Linked DNA regions of Homo sapiens. The protein of the gene in region 1 purifies or fractionates together with the protein of each later gene. This does not show direct contact. Each region holds a gene or a part of one and is shown on either strand. Other genes may lie near its edges.

Region 1 (3,653 bases):
CTAATTTTTTATTTTTAGTAGAGATGGGGTTTCTCCATGTTGGCCAGGCTGGTCTCGAACTCCCAACCTCAGGTGATCTGCCCGCCTCGGCCTCCAAAGTGCTGGGATTACAGGCGTGAACCACTGCGCCTGGTCCCCCAGGGCCTTTCAAAAGACCACCTAGGCATTTGCCCAAGAAATGAAAGTGACCCATAGCTGAAAGTGACCGTATGTCTGTCTAAGTATATCTCCATCAATAACTGTATTTATCTATATAATCTATGTCCGTATATATCAATTCTACAGATGGCTGTATCTTTTTTTTTTTTTTTGAGATGGAGTTTCGCTCTTGTTGCCCAGGCTGGAGTGCAATGGTGCGATCTCGGTTCACTGCAACCTCCACCTCCCGGGTTCAAGCGATTCTCCTCCCTCAGCCTCCCAAGTAGCTGAGATTACAGGCAAGTGCCAGCACGCCCAGATAATTTTGTATTTTTAGTAGAGACGGGGTTTCTCCATGTTGGTTAGCCTGGTCTTGAACTCCCATCCTCAAGTGATCTGTCCGCCTTGGCCTCCCAAAGTGCTGGGATTACAGGCATGAGCCACCGCACCCAGCCTTACAGATAGCTATATCTATCTATTGCTCTATCTATTACTGTCTATCCATCTACCCATCATCCATCCATCCATCCACCCATCATCCATCCATCCATCCACTCATCTGTCCATCTATCCATCCACCCATCATCCATCCATCCATCTACTCATCCATCCATCATCTATCCATCATCTCCATCCATCCATCCTTCCATCCATCCCTCAATCATCTATCCATTCATCCATCTACTCATCCATCCATCCATCCATCTATCCACTCATCCATCCATCATCTATCTATCCATTATCTATCCATCATCCATCCATCTACTCATCCATCCATCATCCGTCCACCCATCCAGCCATCCATCCATCATCCACCCATCTCCCTCTCTCTCTCACTAGCTGCCAAGCTCTCACTCTCTGTGGGACTCTTCCTTCCTTCCTTGTGTGACCCGGGGAGGGAGGGCTGCCTTCCCAGCTCACAGTGCCCTCCCTGCCTAGGATCCGTAATAAATCTTCAAACTTGTTTCCTATCGCTGTGCTGAATTTGCGCCTTCTGTCAGAAGAACCAGGAGCTGCCCCAGGCTGGGATCCCAGTGCCAGAGCGATGGTCGGACAGGCATACCCTGGACACAGGTCAGACACGAGCTACGGGGCAGCCACTGTGTAAACAGGTCTCTCGTGTGAGGGGTCCCTGGTCGGGGGTCAGACAACCAGGTCTAAGGCCACCTGCCAGGTAAAAGCATCCGTGCCGGGTACCCTGAATCCCGGGTCTGGCTCCGGTTGTGTCCCGCCAGGGCAGGGCGGCCAGCCGCTCTGGCGCTGGACCTGGTGTAGCCAGGGCTCTCCACACACTAGAGGTGTGGCATCTGCTTGCTTTTGAGAGGCGTGAAGGCCAGAGACTTCGGCCACAAGGCTGATGCACCCCTGTCCGCAGCCCTCAGGGACACTAAGCTCTACTTCCCCACATGGAGCAGATCTCCAGCAGGGTCTGGGGTGCAGATCCCGCATCTCTGAGCACATGCCACACAGGCCAGGCCCTTTCGCTCAGAGGGCTGCGAGCCCTGCGGCCCTGCTGGGGATTTTTGCAGGGGTTTGGGGGAAGGTGGAATCTGTTGGGCAAATCCCGAGTGCCCGCTGTGTGGAAGGCACCGCTCTCACACCAGAGGTGCATCTAGAACCCTTGCCTTACACTGCGGGACGTCCTTGCGGAGGGAGGCATCAGCGACACAGGCTGCCTACCAGACAGGAGGTTGCCTGGGGGCAGGGCTGGAGTGGGGCTGGGAGACAACCCTGGGGGCAGAGACCTGAAGGAGCAGTGCTGGAGGAGCCAGGGCCACCGCTGCTGAAAGAGCCTTCCAGGCAGGCGAGCAGCAGTGCAAAGGCCCAGGGGTGAGGTGGAAGAGGCAGGCTGCAGACCAGCTCAGAGGACTGGAGCGGAGATCGGGGAATCCGGGAAGCTCCTCAGCAACTCGGTCTAAACCACAGGGTTCCGCAGGACTGCAGGGCACACCCAGAAGGCAGGGTGCGGGCTCCCAGGGCTCAGACCCGTTTCCTAAGCGCCAGGTGCTGAGTTAGAATCTTCAGCTGGGTGCCCGGGGTTTTGTGGCAGGCTCTGGCTTGTTAGGTCCTGCACGCTGCTCCCAGTGTTTCTCTCATTGTGGGGTTTTGGAGATAAATTTGTTAGGATAAGAAAAACATTAGGCTTGGCCCAGTGGCTCATACCTATACCCAGTGCTTTGGGAGGCTGAGGTGGGAGGATCACTTTAGCCTGGGAGTTGAAGACCAGCTTGAGCAACATAGCGAGACCTCATCTCTACAAATAATAAAAAAATTAGGCCAGGCATGGTGGTTTACATCTGTAATCCCAGCACTCTGGGAGGCCAAGGCGGGTGGATCGCTTAAGTCCAGGAGTTTGAGACCAGCCTGGCCAACTTGGTAAAAAAATTAGCTGGGCAAGGTGGTGTGAGCCTCTAATCCCAACTATTCAGGAGGCTGAGGCAGGAGAATCGTTTGAATTTGGGAGGTGGATGTTGCAGTGAGCCGAGATTGCACCACTGCACTCCAGCCTGGGTGACAGAGCAAGACTATGTCTCAAAAGGAAATAAATAAAAAATAAAAAAAATTAGTTGGGTGTAGTGGTGCATGCCTGGGGTCCCAGCTACTCGGGGTGGGGCTGAGGCAGGATCACCTGAGCCTGGGAGTTCGAGGCTGCAGCGAGCTATGATTGTGCCACTGAGCTCCAGCCTAGGCAACAGAGACCCTGTCTTAATGAAAAGGAAAAGACGGGCCTCTCTGTAGATGCCACGCACTGCTCAGGAGATTGTGAACTGGGAATTCCTCAACACCTAGGGCGGGCACTGTGTACCATTTTCTTTTTTTAATGTTTTAATTTGAGGTGAAATTCACATCCTGTACATTTCAACATCTTAAAGTGAACAGTTGAGAGGCGCCTGGTGCGGGGCCAGCAGCAGCTCTGTCCCATCTGCACGGTGTAGTTCTGACATTTCAGAGCTCCGTGCACCCCTGACCAAGCTCTAGTCATCCCACAGCCTGCATGGCTCCACTGATGAACCTGCTTATTAAACACGGTGGGTGCTGGAGGTAGACAGCACAGAGCTGCTGCCTGAGCAGGTCCCGGGGTGCACCTGTGCTGTGTGGGATGTGCTGAGAGTGGGCAGCCTGTCCTGGCTGGTGCCTGGCCCCAGGGTCCCCGGCTCATGGCCACCATCAGGGCACAAATGGTCCCTCCTGGAGCCCCAGGCCCCGGGCAGGCGGGCGGTGGTCCCTGGGCTGACCTGGAGGGTCTCCTGTTGGGGAAGGGAAGTCAGCTCTCCACGGGAGCAGCGCCAGCCCAGGAAGGAGGAGGGCGTCGGATGGAGAGGTCACCTGCAACCACGCATGGGGGCCCCGGCACTGTTGGACACAGGGTCCCCGGTCATTCCTCTGGCCACACTCCAACTCAGGGACAACGTGGATTCTCAAGCCACTGGCTGCTGTCACCCCCGTACCAGGTGGCCGAGGTGCCACCCCTCCTGCCAGCAGATCCCTCCATGCTGAGCCAGGCCTGCGTGGCT
Region 2 (3,653 bases), on another chromosome or scaffold:
ATAAAAACAAGACATAAAGATTTAAGCTCTCTCAGTTATTAAATGCAACAGCATCAAAATGGCTTACCAAGTTATCATTCCAACTAATTCTACTTGAAGAAGAAAACAAGCTTTAGCCATTCAAGCTAGAAAAGCATTAATTACCACCTGGAAAATACTAGAAATTAACAATGGAAACAAATTTGTACTTCTAGACTTATGAAATGATTTTGATTAAAATAGGCTATTGCTTTCATTAATTTTATTTTTTAGGAATAAATGCAGGTTAATTTCAAATAGTAGCTCCTTGTCCAAACAAATAATATAACATTAATACTAGCTAGGACAATATTTGTTACAGTAATTAAAAGACAGAAGTAATGAGTTCTGAGGAATGAATTAAGACTCTTGGATATAGGATGGCTTGGAAATCATGCTAGTAAAAACCGGAAAGTACTAGCGATTAAATCTGATGTCAATGCTAACAACTATTTGTAATTCTCAAACACAGAGAAAACAGTAAGGAGCTTCTCAAAGAAGCATATGAATAGACTGACATATTAAAAAACAATTCTCATTATGAATAATAAATACAAAAAATACTTCATAGAAATCTGCAAATTTAGTTTAATATGGCTTTATGAAATATGCACAATGAAAATAACCAGTTACAGCAGCTTTAATTTAGAAGGGATCTTGCATGTACTGGTAATCTAAATCCCTCAACAACAAAATAAGACGAGGAAACTGAAACCCAGAGAAATTAGGTGTGTTGCTAAACATCAAACAAAATGTTAAGTGTCAGTCCCAAGACTAGAACCCAGGTCTTAAGACTTTATAGTCTGGGGCTCTTTCTACTAGACTGCTATGTATTCAGTCATAGTCAGCTAGAAAAAATGTTAAGTATTCATCAACGGTATTCATGCTGGAATTTAAGAGGCTCTGCTCTTTTCCCTACTTATATGCCACCCAAATAGAGCTGTGTTTTCATTTGTTCATTCTTCCCATACCCCACTCTCAGAGGTTTACAGCACCCCTTTACATGCTCAATATTACTCTCCTCCACTATCCTCTTGAATCCATCCTTCCTCATCTCTCAAGAATCTTGCTCCATCAATAATTGTCATCTCTTTTCTATTTTCAGACTTTCTGTAGGACAGCTCACGTGGCAGCTGGCTTCCTTTATAGTAAGCAAGAGAGAGTGCCCAAGATAGAAGCCACAGTCTTTTGTAACCTAATCTTAGAAGTTACATTCCTATCATTTTTGCCAAATTTTATTCATTAGAAAGAAGTCACTGAGTCCAGGTCACACTCAAGGGAAGAGAGTTACATAAGGGAGTGAATACCAGAATTAGGAGAAGCCATCTTAGAAGCTGCCTGCTACAGCTTCTAAAGAAGAAATGCATAAGGGAGGCTTGCTAACCAGATACCAAGACTTCTTACCAAGCAAGCGATTAAGAGATATGGTATTGGCAAAAGGACAGATAAACTGGCTAATGGAATATAATAGAGAACCCAGAAACAAATTAATGCATGTTTGGAACTTTGGAAAGTAGCAGAAGTGATATGTCAGATAGTGAGGAAAGGAGGGACTATTCAGTAAATGGAGGTAGAAAAAGTGGTTATCCACATGACAATGGTATCCCTAACCGCCTCTCACACCATTAAAAACAAGAACAATAGAACTCTTAGTGAAAATATAAGTATTTTTTAGACCGTTAGATAGAAAATATTTCTTAAACTAGACACAAAGACGTTGATTATAAAAGATGGATAAATATGATTATATTCAAATTAAGAACTGTTACTCATTGAAAGACATCTTAAGACAGTGAAAGACAGACTTAAAAACTGGAAAACACAATAAAAAAACTATTAGGTCAAGAATATATAAAGAATTCATACAAGTCAATGAGAAAACTAAAAACAACCCAACAGGCAAAAGATATGAACAGATATTTCTTATAAATAATACATATATAAAGAAATATTCAGTATTATGAGTAATAAGGGAAATGTAAATTAAGACCAAAATAAGAATAATCCATTCCATTGGCAAAAATTTAAAAGTCTGACAATACTAAATGTGAGAGACAATACAGCTCCAAAGGATCTTATTTACACTGCAGGTGAAAAGTAAATTGAGGCAACCACTTTGAAAATAGTTTGAAATTATCTCCTAAAGTTAAACATTAGCAACACTCCATCATCGAGGGAGTGGATGTAAAAATGGTGGTATAATCACACAATGGAATGTTATGTGGCAGCTCAAAAAATGCACAAGAATGGATGAATTTTAGTAATATAATATTAAGTGTATAAGGTCAGCCTTAAAAGATAAGATTTTTTAATTAAAGTTAAAAACATCTAAAATTTAAAAATTCCCAATGTACATGGAATTCAGAATGAGTTACCTCAGGTCAGTGAAAGCACGTTAAGGAAGGGACTTATAAGATTAGATGTTAGTTATTATCAAGAATCTAGTTTTGCTTTGGGTGATGGGTACAGAGATACTTATTACATTATTAAAAATAACTAAGTAAATAAATAAAAACCAAGCATGAACTAATAATGAGAGTATGTCATGAAACAAAGACATGTTTAATCCAATGCTGTGTACCTAAGCTTTTTAAAAAAAGGTCCTAAAAAAAGTCTCTTTTTTAAAGCTTTTAAAAAAAGCTACATGAAAATTTGATTTCAGCTTGCATGTTAATCATGCTTTTCACCAACTGCTATATAAAGTATAATTTGTATTACATGGTACATCTTATAACAGCTGTTATTTCATATGTAATGGTCTTGCTTCCTTACCAAGAATATAAATATTTCTACCATACATACTGTCTCTGAAAAAGTACTGACCATAGAGTAAGTGCTAAATAAATACTTGTTGAATGCTTGATATACTTTGTATATTTGTTCCTGCCCAAATCCCATGTTGAACTGTAATCCCCAATGTTGGAGGTGGGGCCTGGTGGGAGATGTTTGGGTTATAGGGGTAAATCCTTCATGGCTGAGTGCTGTCTTCAGGACAATGAGTTCTCGTGAGATCTGGTCATTTAAAAGTGTGTGGAACCTCCCCCTCAACACTCTCTCTCACTCCTGCTTTTGCCATATGATGTGCCTGCTCTTGCTTCACGAACTTCCTCCATGATTATAAGCTTCCTGAGGCCTCCCTAGAAGCCGAGTAGATGCCAGCACCATGCTTACTGTAAAGCCTTCAGAACTATGAGCCACTTAAACCTCTTCTTTTTTTTTTAAGAAATTACTCAGTCTCAGGTATTTCTTTATAGCAATGCAAGAATGGCCGAATACAACACTCATATTTAACTTATTCCTCAAATAGCCAAGAGTAAAGCTATGAACCCTGTATCCCAAATTTCATTAAAAGTATTACATCACTATGTTTAATGTTTCCTACTGCTTTACTCGGGAAAGGAACTTAGACCAAAATCACCTGCTCACCTGTTATGGCTGAGGGAAGCAGTGATGGGGGTAGGCACCACAGTCTGTAACCCCTCCCCTTCTATCTCAGTACCAACAAGGCAGATGAGCTGGAGTTCTGGTAATCCTACACAGTTTACTTCATGCCAGCTTTTGCCTGAAAGAGCATCATTGAATGGACAATAATGTTTATTAAATACAAAAAATAAAAACTCCAAACTTCTACCTAA

The links. The genes of interacting proteins can lie anywhere in the genome.
Region 2: the proteins of LMNB2 (region 1) and TSEN15 purify together in Homo sapiens (affinity purification with mass spectrometry; one large-scale study listed by BioGRID and IntAct). This does not show direct contact.

Annotation. Positions count from the first base shown.
Region 1 is NC_000019.10:2,439,897-2,443,549, forward strand, and holds part of LMNB2 (lamin-B2), read right to left. Parts: intron 1-3,653. UniProt on the Homo sapiens protein: Lamins are intermediate filament proteins that assemble into a filamentous meshwork, and which constitute the major components of the nuclear lamina, a fibrous layer on the nucleoplasmic side of the inner nuclear membrane.
Region 2 is NC_000001.11:184,054,655-184,058,307, reverse strand, and holds part of TSEN15 (tRNA-splicing endonuclease subunit Sen15), read right to left. Parts: intron 3,581-3,653; coding exon 3,445-3,580; intron 148-3,444; exon of another isoform or gene 68-147; intron 1-67. UniProt on the Homo sapiens protein: Non-catalytic subunit of the tRNA-splicing endonuclease complex, a complex responsible for identification and cleavage of the splice sites in pre-tRNA. It cleaves pre-tRNA at the 5' and 3' splice sites to release the intron.